4 linked regions of the Homo sapiens genome follow. The protein of the gene in region 1 binds, or shares a complex with, the protein of each later gene. Each region holds a gene or a part of one and is shown in the gene's direction. Other genes may lie near its edges.

Region 1 (5,778 bases):
CTGGTAAACCCAAGATGAAAACATTTTAGACTCTTTAAAGTTAAGAAACTGGGATTTTTGGCCGGGCGTGGTGGCTCATGCCTGTAATCCCAGCACTTTGGGAGGCCAAGGCAGGTGAATCACGAGGTCAGGAGATCGAGACCATCCTGGCTAATACAATGAAACCCTGTCTCTACTAAAAATACAAAAAATTAGCCGGGCATGGTGGCGGGCATCTGTAGTCCCAGCTATTTGGGAGGCTGAGGCAGGAGAATGGCGTAAACCAGGAGGCGGAGCTTGCAGTGAGCAGAGATCGTGCCACTGCACTCCAGCCTGGGCGACAAAGCAAGACTCCATCTCAAAAAAAAAAAAAAAAAAAAAAAAACTGGGATTTTTATTTGGGGTGGTGAGTGGATGGGTATAGGTAGTACAGACTGAGTATTCCTAATCCGAAGCTTTTGAGCATCGACATGACCCTCAAAGGAAATGCTCTTTGGAGAATTTCAGATTTTGGATTCTTAGATAGGGATGCTCAACTGGGTAAGTAAATGTAATGCAAATATTCCAGAATCCAAAAAAATTTCCAAATCTGAAACATTTCTGGTCCAAAGCATTTCAGTTGAGGACTACTCAACCTGGATGACAAAAGAGAGTTGGTGTGATTCTTTGCTTAGAAAGTTTAGAGTAATGATAAAATGGTTAACTTCACTAGCTTTTTACTTGGGGCAGTTAGGAAAACAGAATTATCTTTGACTATATAACATTGCTAAAGAAAAGATTACTTCATTAAAGAAAAATACTCAGATTTAGGGTAGTGGGTAGGGGGGATTCAATTTTTAAAAAACAGAAGAATGAGTTTATCTCCAAAGATTAAAATGGAAACAAATACGAGGAACAGGAGATTTTTAAAACATGTCTTGACTGTATAATCAAGTTTTCCTCACTTAAAAGTCTGGTTCAAGATTACTTTTGACAGAATCACTACAGTCATTCTCCTTTGCTCCCTGATTTCAGTATGCACTTTTCTTTGTTTTGTATTTTGTAACATTCCCTGGTCCCTTCTCTATGACAATAACTTTCCAAAAAATGCTAATGTAACTTTAAGTCACAATAATATAGATACATATTTTAGTATAAGGGAGGTAGTAGTTCTTCAGCATACTGCATGATTAGCTGTCTTCTAAAGGATTTATTCAGTTTTCGAGCTCACTTTTTATGGGACATTGAAAGATTGGTAAGGAGTATAGAATAGAATGTTTGGCTTACAGAAGGAAAAACTATGTGAGGAAGGAACTCATGGCACTTACCTTCATAGAACTGAAGGATTGTCAAGTAAAGGTAAGATTGAATTACAGTGTAGCACCATAGAAGAGCTTTTATTCCATCACATGGAAGAAATAGTGCCATTCAACAACAGAACGTGCAGTGTGTTTTTTGTTTGTTTTGTCATTGGAAATGATAAAGTAAAAACCGGTTGATTACCTGTCAGAAATTGTTGAGAGGATTCCTACTTTAAGCAAGAGGTTAAACTAGGTGCCCTCTAAAAGTTTCTTTTCAAAGATTCATTGAGCCCAAACACATTTTCTAATTTTGCTTTGAAATCCAATAAAGCTAATTTAATATCCAAAATGAAATACTCTTATAACTTTGATATTTTGGGTAGAGGTTAACCTGCCCATCTTTCCTACTAATAATGTACATCTTTTTTAAAGTTTGTTTTTGTTTTCTTCAAATAGGGCACCATAAAACAAGCTTACACGAGTGCTCCAATGGTAGACAATGAATTACTTCGATTGAGTCTTCGGTTATTTAAGCGGAAGACTACTTGCCATGCTCCAGGACATGAAAAGACTGAAGATAATAAACTTTCACAGTCCAGTATCCAACAGGAACTGTGTGTGTCTTAAGACCGAAGTTCAATATGGTATTTTTGGTACTGTCTTCCTTCAGCAGTGCATATTCTTTTGCAAAGTTCTTTGGTTTGACAAGCATTAGTGACAAAGGCAGAAAAGATTTATCAGCCATGCTAAAAGAGTGAAGAATTTTGATCTTTAGAGACACTAGTTTTGGCCAACTTAAGATTTTACGTTAATTTTTACATAGTATTTGACACTCATGCAAAATAATGTGAAAACATCTAGATTTAGTAGTTTATTCTGCGCCTTTTGTTAAAACTGAAGATTTTGGAAAATGGTTGTCACTGCTCTTCCAGCCTATGAATATTTTTGTGAAATGGAACCATGGATTTATGTCTGGATCATCCATACAGAACCAACAATTTTATTCAAAAACAATGTGTTCATCAAAGTAATTGCTCACATTGTGCAGTACTATGTTGTACAGACCACGTGAAAGGGAATGCTGGTCTAGCTGGCGTGGTATGTTTATAGGCGAATTTCAGCAGAAGGAAGCCAAAATAGTTTTTTCCTTTTGAAAGTTTTTTAAAAATTATTTCATGGGTCTTTTTTTTAATTAATATGTGTGCATTGTTACAATGTATGTTGGATGTCTTTTGACCCTAAATGCTTTTTTTGTTATCAGAGATTGTGTACTATTTTTATTTTTAATAAATGTATCTTCCCTTTCCTTGTTTTAGATTTACTTTGCTCTTCGTTAATCTTATTCCTGATGATCTAGAACATTAGTCATCAACATTACATGTTTCATGCTTCAGATATTTTACTGCTTGTGTCCTTATTGTTGGACAGCTTTAAACAGAGTTGATGTACTTCAAATATAGCTCATTGATACTTAAGGCATCTTCTTGGAATGTGGCTTTTGAAGAAAAAAATTACTCAAAGCAAATCAAGAGTTAACAAACCTAACGTAACCTGAGGTTTAATATTCTACTATCATATTTTTTAGAGCTATAACTTTTGATTATATTAAACTGCCTCCAGCTGTACTATGTAAAACAGATTTACTTTTAAAAATTACAGTATACCTGCTTTGTTCTATATGTATATGTTTAACTCATGAAGTGGACTCTTAGAAGGATTTGAAATGGACTCTGGCCACAGAATTTGTGAGCAGACAGTAGTAGTGATAATAATAAAAGAAGGCAATCAAAATTTAATTTTATCATGCCCTCTCACAGGTTTGTGTTATAATTGTAAGCCCATATTACTTGTGTTAGTAGTTTTGTCTCTATAGGTAACATAATGACAGTGGTGTAAAGTTTCTGTTCAAGAAACATATGTTGTAAAGTTACTTTATACAAGATACCTGCCAAAGGAAATGGTCTTACTTTCAAATGACTTTGAAAGCATGTATAATTGCAAACAGAGCAGGAGAAGACTTTAATCAGAATTTCCTTGTGTCCTTTTCCTTTACTAAGTGTTTTGAATAAAGAAAAAAAAAATGTATGACCTCAGAGAATGAATACCCTTCAGGAAGCCACTTCCTGATTTTAGTGGATAATATTGTTCTCTGTAGCACAAAGATTTAAAGTCCTAGAATTTCTAATCCTAGTTCTCAGAATTGTAGAATATGACAAAAATAATGGTTTCCCCATTTGTCCACTGACTTCAGGGATATTTCACAAGTTATTTATTTATAGAATGAAAACTATGTAGTTAAATCTGTCATTCAGTTAAACCTGTTGTCTTTCAGTTTGAAATCTTTTTGTTATGTATGTTGCAAAAGAAAATTTAGAACTATTCCTTTGTTCACTCAGTCACAGCATTCAGAGCTTTATGTTTCCAGTGGAAATGTACTGTTCAGTCTCAATTTCTTTTAATTCAACCATTCTCAGTATTAGTAACATATACCTATAAAATTTTTCTAAAGCAAAATTTTTGATTGAATTTCTCATAAAAGCTCTTGGACCATAATTAAAGTCTCAGTTAAACTGGTATTCCCGAAAAACAATCTTCCAGTCTATAAATTGTTTGCTAGTACAATTAAAAGGTCATCTATCTCATAACTGACGGCTCAGGTCTGTCCAGTTGCCATAATTGCACAACTGGATTCCAGCTGCTGGTAATAAGGAATTGTGTAGATAGATAAAGGGCAAGAGTATGTCTGCAATCCAAAATAAATGAGAGTTAACACATAATTAGCCTTTTGATTATTTTGGCAGCTATCCTCACCATTTAGTAAAGGGTATACTAACAATACCCAACTTTATTTAACAAAGTTTTGTAAGCATACCTAAGTAGTAACTTGATATGCTGAAAAATCTGACCTGTCACTTCGCTTCACTCTGACCAGTAATTGCAGATTGTCGTCACCATCCTAGCCTATGACTACATTAGGATTTTATGACTTATTAACTTGAAAATCTGTTCTGTAAGTGGCATTGGTAGAATCTCCCACTTTGCTCCTCACTGTCCAATTGTGTAAAGATTAAGGTACATACTATTGTTGGTGATGCTTTTACACCTCAACTTGCTATTTTAAAAGGTTATATGAACCCCTCCCACTTTTAAGGATATTCCCTTTTACTGATTTTCCTAGCTAAAATTATATAGCCATCTTTCTAAATATTGTATTTAAATCTGATCTAGGACTTGCCTTATTTTATCATTTTTCTTTAATAATCTCCAATAAACTTTCTTTATTCATTAATTTTGTTGATCTTTCCATTTCAGTATTTTGAATGACACTCTGGGGAATCCAAGTTTAAATGGTGAAATATTTTTATTAAATAACTTTCTACATGCATCTGTAAACATACTTTCTCAACTTTATTGAGCTGTTTCTTTCATATTTTTTTTTCTTTTTTAAATTATTTTTATAGAGATGGGGTCTTGCCTGGGCTGGTCTCAAACTCCTGGCTTCAAAGCCATCCTCCCGCCTTGGCCTCCCAAAGTGCTGGGATTACAGGCATGAGCCACCATGCCCAGCCCTTTTTTTTTTCAGAGGCAGGGTCTTTCTCTGACCCCCAGGCTGGAGTGCAGTGGCAGGATCATAGCTCACTGCAGCCTCCAACTCTAGGGCTCAAGGGATCCTCCCACCTCAGCCTCCCAAGTAGCTGGGACTACAGGTGTGCATCATCATAACTGGCTAATTTTAAAAAGAAAAATTAAAAAAACACTTTGGTAGGCCAAGGCAGGAGGATTGCTTGAGCCCAAGAGTTCAAAACCAGCCTGGGCAACAAAGTGGGACACCATCTCTGCAAAAAATACAAAAATTAGCCAAGTGTGGTGGCACGTGCCTGTAGTCTTAGCTACTCAGGGAGGCTGAGGCAGGAGGATTGCTTGAGCCCAAGAGGTTGAGGCTGCAGCGAGCTGTGATGGCGCCACTCCATTCTAGCCTAGGCAACAGTATGATACCCTGTCTCAAGTTTAAAAAAAAAAAAAAAAGGTGGGGGGGGGATCTTACTATGTTGCCCAGATGATCTCAAACTCCCAGCTTCAGGCAGTCCTTCCATCTCAGTCTCCCAAAGTGTTCGGATTACAGCCGATAGCCACCACCTGGTTATACTGTGATAGAAGTACAATTGGAGTAGCTTAGGTAAAGATGGGAAGTAAATAGACATGAATAAAATGTAAATTGCAGTGATTGCAATTAAAGAAAAAACCAAATGACTGAGATGAGAAATAAGTGTAGCGATTGGGAGTTGGGTACTACTTCAGATTATCAAGAAGGTCTTACGTATGAGATGAGTCCTAAAAAATGAAAAGAAGCTAGCAAAGAGCAAAAGGGGAAGGAGTATTTCAGGCAGAGGGATGGGGATATGCAAAGGCCTAGGAAAAGAGCTTTGGTGAATTCCAAGACGAAAATACTACTATGGCTCACCACTGGGTGGAGGGGATGGGGGTTGCTAGAGAGAAGGTCTAGAACAGTGCTGTTCAA
Region 2 (7,977 bases), on another chromosome or scaffold:
AGCAAAAGAAGGGTTCAAAGTCCTGGCCAACTAAACCATGGGTCACTTTTATCCACTTTTACACATGTGCCCTCTCTAAAGCACACATGTAAACAGAGGATAAAACCTAACTTGGTTGGGTGCAGTGGCTCACATCTGTAATCCCAGTGCTTTGGGGAGGCTGAGATAGGAGGATCACTTGAGGCCAGTAGTTTGAGATAAGCCTGGGCAACATGGCTAGACCCCATTGCTACAAAAAATTAAAAAATTAGCTTAGTGTGGTGGTGTGTGCCTGTGGTCCTAGCTACATGGAAGGCTGAATCGGGAGGATTGCTTGAGCCCAGGAATTTGAGGTTGCAGTGAGTTATGACTGCACCATTACACTCCAGCCTGGGTGACAGAGCAAGTCCCTGTCTCTAAAACAAAAACAAAAACAAAACAAAACAACAAAAAAGAAAAAACAAAAAAAATAAAAAACTCACTAAGCAGCTTTATGCTTTAAAGCAGGGGTTCCCAGACCCCAGGCTGTGGACCAGTAATGGTCAGTTGCCTGTTAGGACCTGGCTGCACAGCAGGTGAGGGGCAGGGGAGGGAGCATTACTGCCTGAGCTCTGCCTCCTGACAGATCAGCAGAGGCATTTGATTCTCAGAGGAGGGCTAACCCTATTGTGAATGGAGTATGTGAGGGATGTGGGTTGTGTGTTCCTTATGATAATCTAATGCCTGATGATCTGAGGTGGAACAGTTCCATGAAGCTGGTCCCTGATGCCAAAAAGTTTGGGGACCACTGCTTTAAAGAACACAAAGGATTTTCAGGTAGTATCTGCTGGAAGCCAGGGGAGGGGGTAATTTTGGGGGCAATAACACAAAGGAAATGAAAACAATCACTTATTTTAACTACAGCATGGATCCAACTTATTCATTTGTTGTGGAAACACACACACACACACACACACATACACATCACAGGCAATATTTTGGCTGTTACTCTTAATGGAATCTAGGCCTTTTCCATCTAACCATAAAACTTACTAGCACTCTTGGCTCCAGGCAGATTTCCAGTCCCCCTAGGCAAGCCTTTGTACTATAGCCAGCTGCAGGCAGTAGCTTCCATCAAGCTCCCTGGTATTTGAAGTGGCAAGCCACTAAACTTGGCATGCCTCTGGTGCATGTTCACACAGACTGGGTGTCTGTTTATCTCCCTGAATTATTTCTCTCAAATCTTGTGCTCCCTCAACCCCTATCTTGAAGTTTGGAAAACTACTGATTTGGTCATTATCTTTTTCTTTGATCAGTGAGTCACCTTAGCAGGTCTATTTAGGTTAAAAAGTCACTCTGGTGCCTGGTTTATTATCTCGATTGGTTATTACATTGAGTAATCAGATAATGGCTTAACTTCAATTTCCATTTGTGGTCTATTAATATAACCTTGAAACAGATTTAAACCCAGCTATAACTTTTTATTTCATGCTTTTACAAATAATGTGTTCATGTGTTTTTTATCCTCCAGCATCCAGATTTTTATCTTTAAATACCATCTCCCACTAAAAGGAACCAGAGCTCTCTGGAGAAATGGCTGATTCCACAACTGGGGCAGGAAATGTATCAGGTAAGTCTGGAAGAAAATAATGGAGAAAAGAAGAGTGGGAAGAGTGATGCAGATGAAACAAGATTGACATGATTTGATAATTGCTGAAATAGGGTGTTGGGTACACATGGGAGTTCTTTAAAGTATTCTTTTATATATTTTAAACTTTTTCCATAAAAATAGTTTAAGGAAAGTTAAAAATGTTATTTTTTAAACTGAAGGAGTAATAGCGCCCTTTGTAGAAACAAAAGATTTCTACAAAGAAAAGTAAAGTCTCCCTCCTACTCCAGACCCTCGCACACCTCTTCAGGGCAATCCTAGTAACAATTTCCCGTGTATTTGTCAAGAAAGTTTCCATGAAAATATATTTTTTAAATGTACATACTCATAAATACAAACATTTTTAAAACCACAAATGGTAGCGTATTATACACATTATTTTATGCCTTATGAAGTTTTATTTCCCATTTTAATACAATGAAGATGTCTACACATTACAATATTGTGGATTTTTATGCTTTACAATTGAGCTTCTTCCTTCGAGTTTCTTTGATCTAATCAAGAGATAGAAGGCCTCCAGCTTCACATTCCTCACGATTATTTACAAAAAGAAGGATGGCTCAGCCAAGGCTAAATTTAGGTTACAGTCCCTAATCTTAACACAGTTTTTAAGTTTAGGTTTCAGCTTTTGGGATATTATTGTTACCTTGAAAAATGTCACGTTTAAAAACACCTCACACCCTCTACTATAGATTGGATCTTGGGAAATAGGGTTGAGGACCGGATCAATACAAGAATCCTCATAACCTCCGCCCCGGCGCGAACCTGGGAGGGCTGCAGACAGTCTAAAGGCTGTGGTGACCTCAGCGCTGCGTCCCTCCAGCAACCGGCGAGTGCTGGGGCACAGGCCATACCCCCCTAAGCTCGGCATCGCCTGCACCTCTCACAGGTGCTCTGTCCGCCACAGTAACGCACTATGGAAAGGAAAGTTGTACGGCGAACGACTGAAGGAGCCAAACGAGGTGGATCTGGAGCGGCCGCAAGGTGCCTGTGCTGCTGGCTTTTAACACACAATAAGAGTGCCAAGGGATACAAGAAGCCACAGGGGGAAAAACAAGTGACATATCTGCATGGAGCCTAAATTTCGCTTGGTGATTTTCAGGGTAGAAGCATTACATATTAAAAACACTGCTATTTTAGGGGAATACAGAATTTAAAAATCCACACAGATTCGCAACATAAAACATGCCGCCCAAAGACACGTCCGCGGTGTCCCGACAGTTCCGGCTCCGCCCGCGGGCCACGAGGCGGGGAGCGACGGTCACTCCCCTCGGTTACCCGGAGTACTTGGGCGGGAACGGGTAGCTCGCGGGAGAGACGGGCTCCTGGGCGAGGGCTGCGTCTTAGTCGCCCTGCTTCTTAGCTCTCGAGGTCCCGCGTGTTACGTGTTAGCACCGCCCGGGGGCGTCAGCATGACCCGAGGCTGCAGGAACCGTGAACTCTCTGCCCCGCGGGCCCAGGTGACCGCGGGCGGCGCTCTCCCGCGCGCGGGGGGCGGGGCTCCCCCCGGCTGTTCACTCAGCTACCACAGCGACGTAAAATGGTGTCCGCTAGGCGTCCCAGGACGGCTTCCTGAGGGACTGGAGGGCCCCGACAGCCGGAAAGCCTGCCCCGCCCCTTGGCCGGCACAGGTACGACGGCGGGGAGCTCAGAAGTTTCGAACTCCAAGGGCCGAAGCACAGCCAAACACCCCACGGAACTTAACAAATGTTTGTGGGGAGAACGCCGAAAACGCGGGGAGGCGGGGCTGGCGCACAGTCACCCTCTCGCGACATCTAAGTGACGTCGCACAGCAAGCACGTGTTCTAGTCTTTCACCTTCAGTCAGCCTCCTCCGTTATACAGGCCTACCCCTTTAAGCGAGTGATGGACAGTTATTTCAGCCTATCAACTTCCTTGCCGACATCCAATCAGATTTAAACTTCTTTTAGCCGCCGGAGGAGTTGGAAAAAGGGGGTCGAAAGAGGGAGCTTACCGTCTCTCGCGATATCGCTGTGAGCCTGCCTCTCTGGAAAAAACGCCGAAACTGATGGCCCGACCTCCCAAATAGTGGTTTAAAGGACGGGTTTATAAGCCAATGAAAGGGATAAGGAGGTGGGTTGCTGCTGTCACTGAGCAAGAAGTACCGTTACAGGGCAGACTTTTTGTCCAATCAACACCTCAACACTTTGGGTCACGTGACCGCAGAGTGCGAGGGGCGGAGCTACAGTCTGGCGCGAGGAACCGTTAAGATAGACAACAAATGTAACCAATGAGGTACTCCGACTAGGGGGTTGGGAACCCAATAACAGTGGTTGGGCGGGCGCCTTCCTGGAGCGCGGGGAGATGTAAAGATAGACAAATAATTTTCCCAATGAGACTGTAGAAGAGAGAGCAATTGGCCAATGAGGACTGCGGGGCGGGACCCTGTGCCGCGGCGGAGTCCAAGATGGCGGCGTGCGGTTCCGCTGTGTGAAACGAGCGCGGGGCGGCGGGTTACTCAGCTCCGCGGAGACGACCTCCGACGACCCGCAACAATGAAGGGAAAAGAGCGCTCGCCAGTGAAGGCCAAACGCTCCCGTGGTGGTGAGGACTCGACTTCCCGCGGTGAGCGGAGCAAGAAGTTAGGGGGCTCTGGTGGCAGCAATGGGAGCAGCAGCGGAAAGACCGATAGCGGCGGTGGGTCGCGGCGGAGTCTCCACCTGGACAAGTCCAGCAGTCGAGGTGGCAGCCGCGAGTATGATACCGGTGGGGGCAGCTCCAGTAGCCGCTTGCATAGTTATAGCTCCCCGAGCACCAAAAATTCTTCGGGCGGGGGCGAATCGCGCAGCAGCTCCCGGGGTGGAGGCGGGGAGTCACGTTCCTCTGGGGCCGCCTCCTCAGCTCCCGGCGGCGGGGACGGCGCGGAATACAAGACTCTGAAGATAAGCGAGTTGGGGTCCCAGCTTAGTGACGAAGCGGTGGAGGACGGCCTGTTTCATGAGTTCAAACGCTTCGGTGATGTAAGTGTGAAAATCAGTCATCTGTCGGGTTCTGGCAGCGGGGATGAGCGGGTAGCCTTTGTGAACTTCCGGCGGCCAGAGGACGCGCGGGCGGCCAAGCATGCCAGAGGCCGCCTGGTGCTCTATGACCGGCCTCTGAAGATAGAAGCTGTGTATGTGAGCCGGCGCCGCAGCCGCTCCCCTTTAGACAAAGATACTTATCCTCCATCAGCCAGTGTGGTCGGGGCCTCTGTAGGTGGTCACCGGCACCCCCCTGGAGGTGGTGGAGGCCAGAGATCACTTTCCCCTGGTGGCGCTGCTTTGGGATACAGAGACTACCGGCTGCAGCAGTTGGCTCTTGGCCGCCTGCCCCCTCCACCTCCGCCACCATTGCCTCGAGACCTGGAGAGAGAAAGAGACTACCCGTTCTATGAGAGAGTGCGCCCTGCATACAGTCTTGAGCCAAGGGTGGGAGCTGGAGCAGGTGCTGCTCCTTTCAGAGAAGTGGATGAGATTTCACCCGAGGATGATCAGCGAGCTAACCGGACGCTCTTCTTGGGCAACCTAGACATCACTGTAACGGAGAGTGATTTAAGAAGGGCGTTTGATCGCTTTGGAGTCATCACAGAAGTAGATATCAAGAGGCCTTCTCGCGGCCAGACTAGTACTTACGGCTTTCTCAAATTTGAGAACTTAGATATGTCTCACCGGGCCAAATTAGCAATGTCTGGCAAAATTATAATTCGGAATCCTATCAAAATTGGTTATGGTAAAGCTACACCCACCACCCGCCTCTGGGTGGGAGGCCTGGGACCTTGGGTTCCTCTTGCTGCCCTGGCACGAGAATTTGATCGATTTGGCACCATACGCACCATAGACTACCGAAAAGGTGATAGTTGGGCATATATCCAGTATGAAAGCCTGGATGCAGCGCATGCTGCCTGGACCCATATGCGGGGCTTCCCACTTGGTGGCCCAGATCGACGCCTTAGAGTAGACTTTGCCGACACCGAACATCGTTACCAGCAGCAGTATCTGCAGCCTCTGCCCTTGACTCATTATGAGCTGGTGACAGATGCTTTTGGACATCGGGCACCAGACCCTTTGAGGGGTGCTCGGGATAGGACACCACCCTTACTATACAGAGATCGTGATAGGGACCTTTATCCTGACTCTGATTGGGTGCCACCCCCACCCCCAGTCCGAGAACGCAGCACTCGGACTGCAGCTACTTCTGTGCCTGCTTACGAGCCACTGGATAGCCTAGATCGCAGGCGGGATGGTTGGTCCTTGGACCGGGACAGAGGTGATCGAGATCTGCCCAGCAGCAGAGACCAGCCTAGGAAGCGAAGGCTGCCTGAGGAGAGTGGAGGACGTCATCTGGATAGGTCTCCTGAGAGTGACCGCCCACGAAAACGTCACTGCGCTCCTTCTCCTGACCGCAGTCCAGAATTGAGCAGTAGCCGGGATCGTTACAACAGCGACAATGATCGATCTTCCCGTCTTCTCTTGGAAAGGCCCTCTCCAATCAGAGACAGACGAGGTAGTTTGGAGAAGAGCCAGGGTGACAAGCGAGACCGTAAAAACTCTGCATCAGCTGAACGAGATAGGAAGCACCGGACAACTGCTCCCACTGAGGGAAAAAGCCCTCTGAAAAAAGAAGACCGCTCTGATGGGAGTGCACCTAGCACCAGCACTGCTTCCTCCAAGCTGAAGTCCCCGTCCCAGAAACAGGATGGGGGGACAGCCCCTGTGGCATCAGCCTCTCCCAAACTCTGTTTGGCCTGGCAGGGCATGCTTCTACTGAAGAACAGCAACTTTCCTTCCAACATGCATCTGTTGCAGGGTGACCTCCAAGTGGCTAGTAGTCTTCTTGTGGAGGGTTCAACTGGAGGCAAAGTGGCCCAGCTCAAGATCACTCAGCGTCTCCGTTTGGACCAGCCCAAGTTGGATGAAGTAACTCGACGCATCAAAGTAGCAGGGCCCAATGGTTATGCCATTCTTTTGGCTGTGCCTGGAAGTTCTGACAGCCGGTCCTCCTCTTCCTCAGCTGCATCAGACACTGCCACTTCTACTCAGAGGCCACTTAGGAACCTTGTGTCCTATTTAAAGCAAAAGCAGGCAGCCGGGGTGATCAGCCTCCCTGTGGGGGGCAACAAAGACAAGGAAAACACCGGGGTCCTTCATGCCTTCCCACCTTGTGAGTTCTCCCAGCAGTTCCTGGATTCCCCTGCCAAGGCACTGGCCAAATCTGAAGAAGATTACCTGGTCATGATCATTGTCCGTGGTGCGTCCTAAAGTCCATGTGTAACTTGTATTTACTACTTTGACATGGTTCCTGTTTTGTGATGTGTAATGGGATACAGCATCAGATGCAATTTTCTTTTTAGTTGTTAGTTGTAGCATTTTCTTTTTTATATTTTTATAAACGTCTTTAAAATAGAAATCAGGACAGTTTAGCTATTTTTTTGTTTGTTTAGCTATTATTTTAAGTGAAAGGGATGCCCTAAAGGTAGCAGGCAGGCAGACAGATTTGCTTTAATTAGGAGTTCCCACCCTTATGAGTAATTTTTTTTCTCTATTCAGTTGTTTTTTTTTTAATCTTGAGCTTAAAAAATCCTCAGAGTTACAAAACCAAAATTTTGAAAAGTCAGAATTTGGAGAAAGGAGTCCACTGACCATATAAAGAGAGTAATAGCCACCTAAAAATGACTCGATTGGTGTGTAGGTAAATAATTCTTTTACCAGAAATGTGTGTGACTGAAATTTGATCAGGGATCTCAAAGATATGCTGGTAAATTGTATAGCAATGTAATTATTTTAATCAGGTATTTGAGTATTTCTTAAGATACAGTTTATTCCCAGAGAGTTTGCTTTAACATGCATTTTTTAAATCATTTGTTCTAGAGTTCTGTATCCCATATATGCACTTTTGGTTTGTAGCAGTAACTGTTCAGTAAAAATTAAGGACTATGTTACAAACCATATATGTCTTATGCTTACACTAGTATGCAAGAAGTGAGTAGGTGCTTTTAAAATCAGAATTCTTTGGTCAGTTATTGGTGTGTGGTGGTGTTTTTACTGACTTTTTCAGAGAGGTGTAGCAGGTACAGTTCTAATCGTGCATATTTCGAAACTAAGTGTTCTTCATCAAAGATGAGTTTTTGTTTTTGTATCAATTCAAATTTCTGGTTTCAATAATAGAAAGAAGAGTTGTCTGCAGGCTCATAGTCATCTTTTATTTCAGTGGGCATTTAAATCAGCCATATTTGGATTGCAGAATTTCTTAAAAAGTCATCATAAAATGCCTTTGACATGCTCTTTTAAAATTTTGCTTGTCTTTTTATTTTCATATTTAAACAGTAGTGACATTACATTATTGAAAATGTTT
Region 3 (7,996 bases), on another chromosome or scaffold:
CACATTTTATTGGTTGACACTTCGTTTTTATGACATATTATTTATTATACACCAAACTATCTCATTTAATGATTCCAATTTGGGGAGGTATCCATTTGACAATTGAAAAATTTAAGTAGGATTATATGAGATAATAAGTATGATTATATGGAAATAAGATTGTGCCCAAATTCTGAAATTCTACAATTACTGTATATTCTTTATATAAATAGTAAGGCTGTTGGGTAACATCATTGCTTCCATCATTTATTAACTCCAAGGTAAACTATAACTGTGTTTCAGTTGGATATCTCCATTTTTTTGGTGTTGGCTCTTCAAGATGCTATAGAAAAGTAAGAGCGAAACATACATGTTTTTATAGGTATATTGGTGTTTACTTTGTTTTAACTTTAATATCTGACTTTGATCTTTCCTTTCATTCCCCAAATTAGATTGAAAATGATTAGAAGGTTTTTATCTTTTTTTTTTTTTTTTTTTGAGGCAGAGCCTTGCTCTGTCGCCCACGCTGGAGTGCAGTGGTGCGATCTTGGCTCCCTGCAAAACTCTGCTTCCCAGTTGAAGCAGTTCTCCTGCTTCAGCCTCCTGAGTAGCCATCCAGGAGGTTTTTATCTTATTTACTTAATGTAGCAGTTTATCATACTGGTGAGAGTTCGGCGAAAAATGATTTAAAAAATAATTCAGCATGAGAAATACTCATGAGATTTTGATAAATTAGTGGATTAGGGCATGTAGAATTTAGGTCATAGTGATGTTAATGACACCTGGTGCAAAATAAATATTTAGTAACAGGAACAGATATTGATCTTGATTTTGGAGATTTTAAAATAAAATTCTGCTGGGCGCAGTGGCTCATGTCTGTCATCCCAGCACTTTGAGAGACAGAGGCGGGCAGATCACTTGAGGCCAGGAGTTCAAGACCAGCCTGGCCAACATGGTGAAACCCCATCTCTACTAAAAATACAAAAATTAGCACAGCATGGTGGCACGTGCTTGTGGTCCCAGCCACTTGGGAAGCTGAGGCATGAGAATCACTTGAACCTGAGAGGCGGAGGTTGCAGTGAGCCAAGATTACCACACTGAACTCCAGCCTAGGTGAGACTCCATCTCAAAAAATAAAATAAAATAAAATTCTGAGTTTCATTTTGAGGTGTTATCTTACATTACCCAATAAGCATTCCTGAAAAGTGTATGTTTTATACTCTATCTTTTTTTTTTTTTGGTTCAGGGGGAACTCCCAACAGGATTTCCTGTGGTGGAAAGGAAGCTTGTTGGAAGGTTTTATTATTATTATTATTATTATTATTATTATTATTATTATACTTTAAGTTCTGGGATACATGTGCAGAACGTGCAGGTTTGTTACATAGGTATACATGTGCCATGGTGGTTTGCTGCACCCATCAACCCGTAATCTACATTAGGTATTTCTCCTAATGCTGTCCCTCCCCTAGCCCCCAACCTGCCTCTACTATATCTTGATATGTACTTGATCATCATACCAGCAATACTGTACTTATTTGTTTATTTTTCCCTCCTTTACTCTTAAAGTTGATGGGGATAGGGACTGTGTCTTATTCATGTTTTTATTTCCAGCAGCTAACCAGCACTGGCATATGGTAGACTTTCAGTTGTCACTGTGAGCAGTCATTTAGCTGGTATTTGTTTTATGTTAATGTATAACAGCTTCTAGGACATTAAGGTTCACATCTCTGTTTTCTAGATTATATAGAGATGAAAGTACCATTTTACCCAACAAAGAGATACACGTAACAATTTTAAGTTTGAACATTTTTACAGTTGTATTAAAAATAGAAATAAGATTTTATAAGACTCTCATTTGAAGTTAGCGTTTAGAAAATTTTCAATAGTATGTAGCTTTGTCAGAGAATAGAATATTGAGTTGGCAGGAATCAAATTGTGTTTTGGATTGTTTTGTGATTACAGAAGGTCTGAGTGCTTACAATTTAAAACCCCATGTCCATTGATGACAATAGAATGTAGAATTGGGAGATGATGTAATCCTTTCTATGTTTTGATATTTAACTATATATATGACATTGATATCCAAAAGATATATATGCATTCCGTATTATGGCTATGTATTTAAAGACTGGCATTTCTTTTTATATTCTACACTGAAACAAAATTACCTTGAAACCTTGGAATATAGTGTCTGAAACCTCTAGAAAGTTTTTTTTAATGCTGGTTGTTATTGTTAAGTATTGTTTATTTCTTTAAGTTAAGGATTTGTGTTTAAAATTCTTTTGTTTCTAGTGTTTACGAAAATGGGGTTACAGAAGATGTGAAGATATTTGTTGGATTAAAACCAATAAAAACAATCCTGGGAAGACTAAGACTTTAGATCCAAAGGCTGTCTTTCAGAGAACAAAGGTATTGCCTTTACTGATTTGTTTTTTTTAATTTTTGTGATTTTCTCTCAAGCTTTTCCAAATAACTGTATACTGTTTAATTAACTTCAGTGAAAAGGTCCTTTTCTTAGACTTGTAAAGACAGCATTGAGCATTACAGGAATACATCCAAATTAGTTTTAAAATGTTTTATTCATTATCTTAGATCAACCCCACCATGCTAGAAAGGGGAGTATATATTCCTCCATGTCCTAAATGCCATATTTCTAAGTTAGATAAAGGCTTTTGATCACACTCACCCGCAGAATTTTTCTAGGCTCAGAAAGAAGAGATAGCAAGATCGCAAGACTCGAGTTGGCCAGCTTAGAGACGTATTTCTCTCTTCTTTCCTTCTTTTTCCTTTACAAGAACCCCTGAGAACTTCTGTTTGTTGTGACTCTGCCCTGCTAGTATCAGGCTTTAACAGTTTTTGTTCTTACTTTTTAGGGAGCCTCTGGTGGGAGGGTCTTTCTTATTAAGTCTTTTTTGTACTGGAATCATGCCTAGGTAATGAAGCCTCCGTAAAATCCCAAGATGGGTTGGAGAGCTTCTGGGTTGGTGAACCTGTGGAGTTTCTGGGACGGTGGTCTGCTTGGAGAGGGCACAGCAGCTCCATGCCCCATGCCCCATGCCGCATACTTTTCATTATGTGTCTCTTCCATCTGGCTGTTTTTGAGTTGTATCCTTTTATAATAAATAGGTCATAGTAAGTAAAGAGCTTTCCTGAATTCCTCGAGCTGTTCTAGCAAATGATCTAACCTGAGGAAGAGGTCATGGGAACCTCTGATTTATAGCTGGTTGGTCAGAAGCACAGGTGACAATCTGGACTTGTGATTGGTATCTGAAGGTGGGGCATTCATGTGGTTCTCAGCCCTTGACCTGTGGGGTCTGCACTAACTAGGTAGATAGTGTCAGAATTGAATTGAATTATAGTGTTGATGGAGAAGTGGAGAATTGCTTGGTATGGGAAAAACCCACACATCTGGGATCAGAAGTGAAGTATTCTGAAAATACTGAGTGTTGTGAGTGCGTAGAAGAGTTTGTTTTTCTTATTTACATGGCAGTCTTTCCTCATCCAGAGATCCAGGTTTTCCTGTTGTTTTGTTGCCCATAGAACTGTATCTCACCAGAAATGGTGGCTCACTTCTGTAATCCCAGCACTTTGGGAGGCCGAGGTAGGTAGACCACTTGAGCCCAGGAATTTGAGACCAGCCTGAGCAACATGGCGAGACCCTGTCTTTACAAAAAATTTAAAAATCAGCCAGGTGTGGTGGTGTGTTCCTGTGGTCCCAGCTACTTGGGAGGCTGAGGCGGGGGATTGCTTGAGCCCAGGAGGTCAAGGCTGCAGTGAGCTGAGATCGTGCTACTGTACTCCAGCCTGGGTGACAGAGCGAGACCCAGTCTCAAAAAGAAGAGAAATAACTGTATCCCAAAGATTCCGAGAAATGAGGATTGTTTTAGAATTGAGGACATCAGAAATGTGAAAGGTTTTGGAATGACTGTTGATGAAAACAGATTAATTGGTCTGCTCTTGTTATTTAGGAACACTGCCTCATGGGGATCAAAGGAACTGTGAAGCGTAGCACAGACGGGGACTTCATTCATGCTAATGTTGACATTGACTTAATTATCACAGAAGAACCTGAAATTGGCAATATAGAAAAACCTGTAGAAATTTTTCATATAATTGAGCATTTTTGTCTTGGTAGAAGACGCCTTCATCTATTTGGAAGAGATAGTACAATTCGACCAGGTAGGACCTCAGTTAACAACAACTTTTATGATTCTTTGGGTTATGCATGTCAAGAAATAGGACATGGTGCTGTGTAAAATAAAGTTCTTATGCATTTGATTCCTTTTCTTGCTGTACTTCAAATATGAACAGTTTCAGGTCCACAGCAAAATTGAGAGGAAGGCACAGAGACTTTTCCATATACCTGCTGCCCCCACACATGCATAACCTTTCCAGTTATCAGTATCTCCCAACAGAGTGGTACATTTGTTACAAATGATGAACCTACATTGACACATCATAATCACTCAAAGTCCACAGTTTACATTAGGATTCACTCTTGGTTGTAGTAATTCTGTGAGTTTGGACAAATGTATAATGACATCTATCCACCATTATAGGATCATACTCAATAGTTTCACGGCCCTAAAAATCCTCTGTGCTCCACTTATTCATCCCTACCCACAACTCTTGACAACCACTTATCTTTTTACTGTCTCCGTAATTTGCCTTTGTCAGAATGTTACATAGTTGGAATCGTATAGTATGTAGCCTTTTTAGATTGGCTTCTTTCATTTGGTAATTGGCATTTAAGATTTCTCCATTCCTTTTCATGGTTTGATAGGTCATTTCTTTTTAGTGCCGAATAATATTCCATTGGATGTACCGCAGTTTTTATATCCATTTACCTACTGAAGGACATCTTCCAAGTTTTGGCAATTATGAATAAGCTACAATGGAAATCTGTGTACAGGTTTTTGTGTGGTCGTAAGTTTTCAGCTCCTTTGGGTAAATACCAAGGAGCACAAATGCTGGATTGTATGGTAAGAATGTTTAATTTTGTAGGAAACTGCCAAGACTGTCTTCTGAAGTGCCTGTACCATTTTACATTTCCACCGGCAGTGAGAGTTCCTGTTGCTCTGCATCCTCACCAGCATTTGGTGTTGTCAGTGTTCAGGATTTTGGCAATTTTAGTGTGTGTGTAGTGGTATCATAATGTTGTTTTAATTTGCATTTTTCTGATGACATATGATGTAGAACCTCTTTTCATATGCTTATTTACTATCTGTATGCCTTTTTTGGTGAGATGTCTTTTAAGGTCTTTGGCCCATTTTTTATTTGGCTGTTTGTTTTCTTATTGTTGAGGTTTAAGAGTTACTTGTATATTTTGGAGAATAGTACTTTATCAGATTTGTTTTTTGCAAATATTTTCTCTTATTCGGTGACTGTCTTCTCACTGCCTTGTTGCATGTTTATTTTTATTTAATTACTTTCTGCTTTTTTATTTTCTTTCTAGTTTCTTTGGATTTACTTGCTGTCTTTCTATCTGAAGTATTTTTAGATTGATATTCAGGTTAGGGGTACAGGTTTAATTTTGTACTTGTAAACTACTAGTACAAAAAGAAAGAAAGAAATTGAATAGGCAAGAGTTTCAAGAAAGAAACTCTTGCAAAAATTTAGTATTAGCTACATGCAAATAAGGAAGAAAAATTTGATGGATCAAAGTGTAGATGTTTGGGAGTTAGCCATATAAATAATAGTATGTGCAATTGAGAGTCTGTTCAAGAGACCTTAATTTATGGCCAGGCACTGTGACTCAAGCCTGTAATCCCAGCACTTTGGGAGGCCAGGGTGGGCAGATCACTTGAGGTCAGGAGTTTGAGACCAGCCTGGGCAACATGGTGAAACCCTGTCTCTACTAAAAATACAAAAATTAGCTGGGTGTGGTGGTGTGTGCCTGTAATCCCAGCTACTTGGGAGGCTGAGGCAGAAGAATCACTTGAACCTGGGAGGCAGAGGTTGCAGTGAGCCGAGATTGTGCCACTGTACTCCAGCCAGGGTGACAGAATAAGACCCTGTCTCAAAAAAAAAAAAAAAAAAAAGACCTTAGTTTATTAAGTTGCTCCTCAAACACACTTCTTCCTCAAGGACATAGCCTAAGGTATTTCACATATACCTTAGGAATACAATTTACCATTGCTTTAAAATAAAATTTACAGATAACTATGTGAGTCAAATACACTCTGAAGCCAGACAATTTTTTTTTTTTTTTGAGACAGGTTCTCACTCTTGTTCAGGCTGGAGTGCAGTGGCACGATCTTGGCTCACTGCAACCCCCGCCTCCCAGGTTCAAGTGATTCAGCCTCCTGAGTAGCTGGGACTGCAGGCGTGTGCCACCACACCTGGCTAATTTTTTGTATTTTTAGTAGAGATGATGTTTCACCATGTTGGCCAAGCTGGTCTCGAACTCCTGACCCCAAGTGATCGCCCGCCTTGGCCTCCAAATTGCTGGGATTACAAGTGTGAGCCACCACACACCCAAGCCAGACTATTTTAAACTTACTCTGTTCTTAGTAATACCTTTAGAATTTCTGATAAAACACAATGTTGCTGTGCAGAATTTGGAAGAGAGGGGAATCCCTTGGACTTCTATAGCCAGTTTACTCTGCAAGGATTTCCATGTTTTACGTAAGAGACAGTATAGCAAGGGAGACAGAGTATTAGTTATTTTTATTATATCTTTAAATTTTCTGTTTCTTATTCCTTGTTTGTGGTGTTGTGTTCCACATATATTGAATATTATCTTCCATAATACCACAAACATGCCAAAAAACAAACTAGAAGGCAGCAAATAAAAATCTCATAGGTTTAATAGTCAGTGAGAGCCCATAGGTGTGGAATGTGCTCTTGATCATGGTATCTGCCAGGTAATACATAAAAGACACAGTATAATTAACCTTTTTTTCTTCAACTATTACAAATCTTACTGTATTCATGCACTTTTAGAAACTAAAAATGTTTTAAAAAACAATGAACTAAGTATTGTACAGAAATGGCTACTGTATTTTAGAATGTGATCCTAGTGAAATATTTTTCATTTTATAGCTTTTTATGATGCATCTACTTTTCTAAGAAATAACCTAAGGATGATGGGGCAGATATATTATAAACCTAACTTTGCAGATAAATAACCTAATTCTTACAGATAATTGGACCTGTCCCAAATAATGCTGTGTCTCTTATAATGCTCCAGAGGCATATTTTCAGGGTCCCCTACAAAGGGCATGTCTGTAAGAGTCACCACACCCAAAGAACCCCAGAGCACCGTGTCTGTATTGGGTATTTGTAGTTCCTTCCATTCTAAAGACAGTTTAATCAATCAGAAAATATCCTTATTACAAGAAAAGTTGTCTAGCAATATAATTGGCAAAATAGCTGTTTACCTACAGAAGTATAATGTGCAGTGGAAATTCTGAGAAAGAAGAAATAATTTTCATTTCATGTAAGAAATATATTTGAATTGGATGTTGAAGGGTGGGATTTTTAACAGGTTGACAGGATAGAAAAGAAAATAATATGGGCACAAAAATCGGGGTTAGTATAGAAGCAGTTACTATAGTAGTTCATTGTTTTCCTTAGAGGTTCATGAAAAGCATTAATGAGAAATGTTATTGGAAAGTTCATTCAGCCATCATTGTAAAAGATCTTAGATTTTATATTTATGAATTTGGGCTTTGTGGAAACAGTTGGAAGGTTTTTGAGCAGAGAAGTGACATGTTTTAAGCTTTGCTTTAGGCTTTCCACTTTTAGAGGGAGGAGAAGCTATAGGTTGGGAGATCATTACAGTATATATGTGTGTCTGTTACACATGTGTTATATGGTAGGGTATTGACCTTGTAAAAAAAAATAAAGGCTTAAATTTGAGGGTGGCAGCAGAAATGGAAAGATAGGAATGAGTGGGAGTAACATGGTAGTGGTTGAATTTCTCAGACCTATCAACTGAGAATATTTTCTAGTTAGCAAGTGTAGAGCAAAAGTTGGTTCCAAGATTTTAATCAGAAAATGGCACCATTTA
Region 4 (7,996 bases), on another chromosome or scaffold:
ATCAAGGCTGCAGTGAACTGTGATCGTGCCACTGCGCTCCAGCTGGGTAACAGCAAGACTGTGTCTCAAAAAAAAAAAATTGAAATTTGATTTTAGAATTCTGCTTTTCACCAGATACTTTTCTTGTTCCAGGACTGCCTATGTGCTTGCTGATGTCATGGATGATCAGTTGAAATCTATGTGGTTCACTCCATTTCAGGCTGAAGAGATAGATACAGATCTGGATTTGGTATAAATTATTACTAAATATTTAGAAAAACGTTATTGTTTTTTCTGTTTCTTTATATATTGTTAGCATTATAATAGTTTCCATATTTTATGGCTGTTAAAGTCTACTTGGAAGCAAGTCCTACATTATTTTTATGCCACTTGCCCACTTCATGGCATCCAGAAAGTTTTTTCTCCTGCTTTTTTTGCTTCTTTCTAGTTAGTGATCTGTATTTTGAGGTTGTGACTTTTTTGCTAATTTTTTTTTTTTTTTTTTTTTTTTTTTTTTTGAGACAGAGTCTCACTCTGTCACCCAGGCTGGAGTGCAGTGGCACAATCTCAGCTCACTGCAACCTCCGTTTCCCGGGTTCAAGTGATTCTTCTGCCTCAGCCTCCTGAGTAGCTGGGATTACAGGCCTGTGCCACCACGCCTGGCTAATTTTTTTGTATTTTTAGTAGAGACTGGGTTTTACCATGTTGGTCAGGCTGGTCTCAAACTCCTGACCTTGTGATCTGCCTGCCTTGGCCTCCCAGAGTGCTGAGATTACAGGCGTGAGCCACCATGCCCAGCCAAAAAAAAAATTTTTTTTTAATATAGATAAAGTCTCACTCTGTTACCCAGGCTGGTCTCACTCCTAGCCTCAAACAATCCTCTCTCTTTGGCCTCCCAAAGCGATGGGATTACAGGCGTGAGCCACCACATTTGGCCAGAGAATGTAACTTTTTTAAGGGAAAAATCACACTTTTGCATAAGTTCTATGAAGCACTTTGTTTTCTTACTTGACGGGGTATAGAACAGGGAAAAGTATCCCATAAAACAACAGTTTATTCTTGCATTTGGGTTCAAGGAGAGGAATGGTTGTGCTATGGTGTGGCTCTCAGTTTGGAAACTTGTGAAGAATGTATTTGTTATAGTATAGTATGAATGGGAATTGACATTCTTAAACATAATGCTGAATAGGTAAGAGTATAATTAACTATTTAAAATTTATTGCAGTCTGTTCTATGCTTCTCAGAGATGTGGTAAGGCGAATTATTTTAGCCACATCTTATTATACAGTACATTGTTCCTTTTCTTTATCAAAGAAACATACTGGTGTTCATCATATACAATAAAACTAAGAGAATGATTTGCTTCACATTTGTATTTAGTGTGTTGAGGGCTGCTTTTCCTTTTTTAAAAAACCACATACAATTCAATTAAAAGTGCATTAAAAATTAATTTCTTTTTAGTGCAAGCTGTTCAGTGGTTCTTTAAAACTGTCCTCTCCAGTAGAATTTTATGCAATAATGCAAATATTTTGTAGTCTGCCCTGTCCAAAACAGTAGCCTCATGTGCCTGTTGTACAATTGAAATGTGGATGACTAGGGAACTGAATTTTATTTTGATTTAATTTTGATTAATTTAGATAGGCACATGTTGTTAGTGGCTACCACGTTGGGCAGCACAGGTATAAAATATTTGTTAAAAGTTACTAATTTTTTAACTTTAAGTTGAATCACAACTGTCTTGTGATGATAATTGTAACCCTCTGGATTAGAGAAATTTTAGGTATCTTACATTTGATAAATTTGAATAAAACCTAAGTAAACTGAATGTTGATTTCCCTGAAATTAAACTTAGATGGGAACCTCATTAAATGCATAGAGCTTTTGGGAATCTGTGGCACAGAATCTTTTTGTAATAGAAATGTTGACTATATAAGGCTGGCAGAGTATGTTATTTTCAGATTCTTTTTTTGGAAAAGTTCAGGAGATATTACAGTGTTAATTTATATAGACAAATACTGAGTTTCCTGCTCAGGCATCAAAGTTCTCCTAGATTAATAGCCCTGCTTTGAAGAATGCCACACACAAAAAAAGTAGCATTACTAAGGTGTGTGTGTGTGTTTGTTTTTAAACTACCAATGCCATTTGCTTTTTGAAAAGATGAAAGAGGTAGATCTATAATTTATTTCTTATGAGAGGCAAATATAATTTATAGGTAATAAGAATTTCTGTAGTCAAATGTTATGCTAATAATTACATTTAATATGTGTTTTGTTTCATTATTATGACTGCAGGTAAAGGTTGACTTAATTGAACTCTCTGAAAAATGCTGTAGTGACTTTGATTTGCACTCAGAATTAGAGCGCTCATTTTTGTCAGAACCATCATCTCCAGGAAGAACCAAGACTACTAAAGGATTCAAACTTGGGAAGCACAAGCATGAGACCTTTATAACGTCAAGGTAAAATTTATTCCACTGAAGATCTCAAATGTCATCACATAAGCTTATGTATTTTAGTATATTTTAAGATAGACACATGCGGCCGAGCGCGGTGGCTCACGCCTGTAATCCCAGCATTTTGGGAGGCCGAGGTCAGGAGATCGAGACCATTCTGGCTAACATGTTGAAACCCTGTCTCTACTAAAAATAAAAAAAAAAAAATTAGCTGGTCGTGGTGGTGGGTGCCTGTAGTCCCAGCTACTCGGGAGGCTGAGGCAGGAGAATGGTGTGAACCCGGGAGGTGGAGATTGCATTGAGCCGAGATCACGCCACTGCGCTGCAGCCTGGGCGACAGAGCAAGACTCTGTCTCTCAAAAAAAAAAAAAAAGACACATGCTATTAAACTAGAAAGGAAATTAACATAGCATTCGAATCATGAACATTGTTTGAATTTTTTAAATTTAAACGTAATAATTTGGCCAGGATATACCCAGTACATTTGTTATATTGTTTTCTACAAGATTTTGGAAGGTTTGAATAAGAAGTGAACTGGATTATTTTAAAACATTGTTATTCATAACAATGAAATGTGAGTACTTTTCTTAGCTAGTTTGTTATATTATCCCAGAAGTATGATAGATACTTGCAAAGTTAGCAGAATTGGAGTACAAAAAAACTGAAATATAATTTTGGGTATTATAAAGATTATTTTTGCTAGAAACCTGAAAGAAAAATGTTTTATGGCATGTTTTTGTTTTAATAGTGGAAAATCTGAATACATTGAACCTGCCAAAAGAGCTCATGTTGTGCCACCACCAAGAGGAAGGGGCAGGGGAGGATTTGGACAGGGTATACGACCTCATGATATTTTTCGTCAGAGAAAACAGAACACAAGTAGACCACCATCTATGCATGTGGATGACTTTGTTGCTGCTGAAAGTAAAGAAGTGGTTCCTCAAGATGGAATACCTCCACCAAAACGGCCACTCAAAGTATCACAGAAGATTTCTTCCCGTGGTGGGTTTTCAGGCAATAGAGGAGGACGGGGTGCTTTCCACAGTCAGAATAGGTTTTTCACACCACCTGCTTCAAAAGGTAACTAATTAGTATGTATTTTCTAATGGGTTAGAATATTGGAATGTTAAAATATTGAATGAAAGTGATTTAGATGGAAGAGATTCAGATAAACAGTTTTCCTGTTGCTGCAGTTGAGCCACCTCTGGACTAGTGGTACTGTTTGCAGAGTACTCTATTGGATAGAAGAAAGAAACTTTTTTTCAATGAACCTTTCATGCATTGTACTTTTAATAATGAGTTTAGAAGTCTTGGCTAATTATTCCCCCCGGCCTTTTTTTTTTGAGACAAGAGTCTTGCTCTGTCGCCCAGGCTGGGGTGCGGTGGTGTGATCTCAGCTCACTACAAACTCTGCCTCCCTGGTTCAAGTGATTTTCCTGCCTCAGCCTCCCAAGTATTTGGGACTACAGGCATGCACCACAATGCCCAACTAATTTTTGTATTTTTAGTAGAGATGGGTTTTCGCCGTGTTTGCCAGGCTAGTCTCAAACTCCTGACCTCAAGTGATTCACCCCCCTTGGCTTCCCAAAGTGCTGGGATTACAGGCATGAACCACCGTGCTCAGCCTTATTTTCCTTTTTACATTGAGAATTATACATTTTCTGAGTAATACCCTTACATTATTTTCACAATTATACTTAACAGTTTTCTTAAGATTGTTCTGTGCAGTTCACCATTGATCTGCCTAATCTGCTTGTTTTCTAATGTTATATTTAGTCTGTTTGAAATTGTTACAAGATTTTTTTTTTTGGAGACAGAGTTTTGCTCTTCTTGCCCAGGCTGGAGTGCAATGGCGCAATCTCGGCTCACTGCAGCCTCTGCCTCCTGGGTTTAAGCGATTCTCCTGCTTCAACCTCCCGAGTAACTGGGATTATAGGCATGCGCCACCACACCCGGCTAATTTTTATATTATTAGTAGAGACGGGGTCTCACCATGTTGGCCGGGCTGGTCTCGAACTCCTGACCTCAGGTGATCCACCCACCTTCGGCCTCCCAAAGTGCAGGGATTACAGGCGTGAGCCACTGCACCTGGCCTTACAAGATTTTAGAAACTAGGGATACTTACAGAAATTATACTTTAGTAGTGGATTGATAAACATGTTTTCATACCTGCTGAGTTAGGAGGGTGAGAGTGAAAGAGAATCTGTGTTTATATTAATAACAAACACTTAGATTAGGTGTGTCAGGAACTGTTATAAGCACTTTACATATTATAACCTCATGTCAACCCCATGAGGCAAGTTCTCTTAGTACTCCCAATTTGCAGAAGAGAAAATTGTCAGTCAGCTGACCAGGGCACATAAATACAAGTGGTAGAACCAGTATTTGATCCCTGGCAGTTTGGCTCTAGAGCCTCTGCTCTTAACCACTGTGATGTTGCCACTATATAGTACAGTCAGTTTGCAGAATTTCAGTTTCTTTTCCATTCTTTTGAAGATTAAGAAAAATCTGTCACTTAAAAGAATCCAACTGAAGTTGTGAAAAAAGTGATTTTGATTGTGCTGTTTGTGTTTAGGAAACTACAGTCGTCGGGAAGGAACAAGAGGCTCCAGTTGGAGTGCTCAGAATACTCCTCGAGGAAATTACAATGAAAGTCGTGGAGGCCAGAGCAATTTTAACAGAGGCCCTCTTCCACCATTACGACCCCTTAGTTCTACAGGTATACATCCTTGCTACTTGATATTGCTGAGAGAAGGGAAGTAAATTCCTCCTTTAAAATTGTTGATATCATATACAGAGGGGGCTAGGGGTGCTAATCTCCCCATCTCCTTGCTCCACACAGTCAAAAATCTAAGTATAACTTTGACTTCCCCAAAACTTAACTACTGCTAGTATACTGTTGACTGGAAGCCTTACAGATAACATAAACAGTTGATTGACACATATTTTATATGTTATATATATATTATATAATGTGTTACAATTAAATAAGCTGGAGAAAAGAAAATGTTATTAAGAAAATCATAAGGAAGAGAAAATACATTTACTATTAAGTGGAAGTGGATCTTCATAAAGGTCATAACATTCCATAGGCTGAGGAAGAGGAGGAGAGGTCTTACTTTCTTAGGAGCAGCAGAGGTGGAAGAAAATCCTCATATAAGTGGACCTAGGCAGTTGAAACCCATGTTGTTCAAGGGTCAACTGTACTCTCATTCTGGAAGAGAATATTTTAGAGTATAGACTTAAAGTTCTAAAGTTTATATCCTTGAATGAATGCCCAATATACATCTTCTGTAAAAATAATCAAATTTTTAGTTTCTGAACTGTTTGTATAATCTGAACAGTTTCATGGTGATGTGCTCTTATTTTTATGTTTCAGTAATGAAAGCCAATGCTTAAGGTATCTTTCTGACCACAAAGTATTTTAATAACAGAGATACCTTTATACAGCATATATTTTTTTGGTTATAGTATTGTCTTAGGTGTGTAAGCACATAACCTTTTTTTTTAAAACATTTATCTAGTCCAGAATTTTACTTATCAGAAGTAGCTTTTGGTTTCAAATGCACATTTTTAAAAAATAATAGTTTTATTTAGGATATAATTCTCATATACCATATAGTTTACCTGTTTAAAATGTATAATTCAAAAATCTTTGGCCCATTCACCGTGCTTGCACGTGAGCTTTAAAAGAGAATAGAGTAATTCTTGGTTTGAGCTCAGTGTCGTAGATTAGTATTTATAATCTTGGAAAAGAAAGGACATTGGAACTAAAAACTGTATTCTTTCTTTTACAGGTTACCGCCCAAGTCCTCGGGACCGTGCTTCTAGAGGTCGTGGGGGACTTGGACCTTCCTGGGCTAGTGCAAATAGCGGCAGTGGAGGCTCAAGAGGAAAGTTTGTTAGTGGAGGCAGTGGTAGAGGTCGTCATGTACGCTCCTTTACACGATAAAAATCCTTTTGGGAACATCTTAACTGTATATGAACATTTCACGAGGACAATAAAAATAAGACATTGAAGGACCAATTTAGACTTAGCAGTTATCTGGAGACATCTGAGAGAATATTTTTATCTGAAGAAAGCAGAATTTGTTTGATACCTAACAAGATTTCAATAAAAATCCAAACTTTGTATGTACGTTTGTATATATTTTCCCTTTTTTGTATGACTATTTATTTAGAAAATTTCTAGGTGAAAAACTAAATGATGTTTTGTATTTTTCTTGCCTATAGCACAGATATTCTCAAACTTTCTCAGCTCATGACACTATTTAGTGCCTCAGTACTTTTTTCACAGCATACCTGGTCCAAAAGAAATATCTAATACTTGTGTTTATTAAGCAGTTAGATCCAACAGCTTAATAAGAATGTACATCATCACCACTAGTAACTGTGGACACTGCATGTCTCAAACCTTGGAATCAGTATCATTTTCTTTTCCTCTCTGCTTCTTGCACAGTACTTTTTATCAAACTGCTGAAAACCCAGTTTTGTAAAGATATGTTGTTATAGAAAGGAATATAATGCTATTTAATGTTGAAAATGTAAACTACCTCAAAGTAGTAGTTTATGTGATGTCCAACAGGTGTTGCTATGTTTTTCTCAAAAATTTTAAAATATTGTGTGGCACCCATGTTAATTTGCTAAGGTGCCCTGCTACACAGTTTGGGAACCATGGCTGTACCAAAAGAAACAAAATACTCCTCTCCTTTGTATTAGAAATCTGAACTTTGCATTTCAGCTTTGGACCTACTGACACTATTTTATTATACAAATTATTTAAAGCCTAAAATAAGGAATATCCTAATACTATTATTTTGGGAATCAGAAACATCTAATAAAGCTGGACTTTATACATAGAAATAAAGCTTACAACTTTGAGAAAGTAGCCATATTTTCCCCAAGATACGTCTTAACACACTGAGTCTATATAAGTGGCGTAAAATACAGAGTTATCTTAATCAGAAAAGGAGTGTATGAGTCTCATTCCATCCTTTTATCAATCTCTGTTTTGGAGAACTATTTGTGAGTGAATACAATCTTCATTAAGAAAACACTTTGAAGAAAAGCTTAGCTGTAAAGAATCAGAGGTTTAGGTGAAAGGTTATGGCAATCTTTTCATAACTAGTGGCCTTGAAAAACCCAAGTCTTGAGCTGCTGTAAGAAAATACCATAGACTGGGTGGCTTAAACAATAAAAATTTATTTCTCAAAGTTCTGGAGGCTTGGAAGTCCAAGATCAGGGTGTCAGCATGGTTGGGTTCCAGTGAGGGCCCTCTTCCTGGCTTGTATGCAGCTACCTTCTTAAGTGCTCACATAGTCTTTCCTTGGTGCTTGCTTGGAGAGAGAGCGAGCTCTTGGGTCTTTTTCTTCTTACAAAGGCACTGTTCCCACCATGCAAGTCTCATCCTCATGATCTAATCTAAATCACAGTACCTCCCAAAGGACCCACCCTTTTAGTACTACTACATTGAGGGTTAGGAGTTCAATATATGAATTTAGGGAAACACAAGACTCAGCGCATCAAGGTAACTTAAATCCCCTTTGATCCTGAAACCTAACAGGC

Evidence for each region.
Region 2: ZC3H13 (region 1) and RBM15 share a complex: the UniProt entries of both Homo sapiens proteins name them as parts of the WMM complex.
Region 3: ZC3H13 (region 1) and METTL14 share a complex: the UniProt entries of both Homo sapiens proteins name them as parts of the WMM complex.
Region 4: the proteins of ZC3H13 (region 1) and VIRMA are in contact, whole or in part, in a cryo-EM structure (PDB 7VF2), measured with the Homo sapiens proteins. Residues at the interface, in NP_001317494.1 of Homo sapiens: Pro1492, Leu1493, Asp1494, Val1495, Ile1496, Asp1497, Val1498, Asp1499, Trp1500, Ser1501, Gly1502, His1507, Leu1518, Lys1520, Phe1521, Pro1523, Val1526, Met1527, Arg1529, Val1530, Gly1531, Ile1532, Ser1533, Lys1535, Leu1536, Ala1537, Gly1538, Leu1541, Lys1544, Val1545; in NP_056311.2 of Homo sapiens: Leu521, Ser529, Tyr531, Gln532, Leu535, Glu536, Ile538, Leu539, Leu540, Asp541, Val544, Val547, Thr548, Ser551, Leu554, Gln555, His558, Glu561, Val562, Ser564, Glu565, Lys567, Gly570, Asp571, Ala574, Glu575, Thr577, Ser578, Glu621, Glu625.

Annotation. Positions count from the first base shown.
Region 1 is NC_000013.11:45,953,235-45,959,012, reverse strand, and holds the end of ZC3H13 (zinc finger CCCH domain-containing protein 13), read left to right. Parts: intron 1-1,715; coding exon 1,716-1,886; 3' UTR 1,887-4,548; downstream 4,549-5,778. UniProt on the Homo sapiens protein: Associated component of the WMM complex, a complex that mediates N6-methyladenosine (m6A) methylation of RNAs, a modification that plays a role in the efficiency of mRNA splicing and RNA processing.
Region 2 is NC_000001.11:110,335,396-110,343,372, forward strand, and holds the start of RBM15 (RNA-binding protein 15), read left to right. Parts: upstream 1-3,981; 5' UTR 3,982-4,010; coding exon 4,011-6,873; intron 6,874-7,977. Other genes in the region: uncharacterized protein LOC124904276, read left to right, coding at 3,040-3,546. UniProt on the Homo sapiens protein: RNA-binding protein that acts as a key regulator of N6-methyladenosine (m6A) methylation of RNAs, thereby regulating different processes, such as hematopoietic cell homeostasis, alternative splicing of mRNAs and X chromosome inactivation mediated by Xist RNA.
Region 3 is NC_000004.12:118,701,661-118,709,656, forward strand, and holds part of METTL14 (N(6)-adenosine-methyltransferase non-catalytic subunit METTL14), read left to right. Parts: intron 1-1,225; coding exon of another isoform or gene 1,226-1,275; intron 1,276-2,274; coding exon 2,275-2,391; intron 2,392-3,950; coding exon 3,951-4,161; intron 4,162-7,996. UniProt on the Homo sapiens protein: The METTL3-METTL14 heterodimer forms a N6-methyltransferase complex that methylates adenosine residues at the N(6) position of some mRNAs and regulates the circadian clock, differentiation of embryonic stem cells and cortical neurogenesis.
Region 4 is NC_000008.11:94,487,093-94,495,088, reverse strand, and holds the end of VIRMA (protein virilizer homolog), read left to right. Parts: intron 1-132; coding exon 133-229; intron 230-2,270; coding exon 2,271-2,437; intron 2,438-3,179; coding exon 3,180-3,511; intron 3,512-5,006; coding exon 5,007-5,150; intron 5,151-6,228; coding exon 6,229-6,383; 3' UTR 6,384-7,400; downstream 7,401-7,996. UniProt on the Homo sapiens protein: Associated component of the WMM complex, a complex that mediates N6-methyladenosine (m6A) methylation of RNAs, a modification that plays a role in the efficiency of mRNA splicing and RNA processing.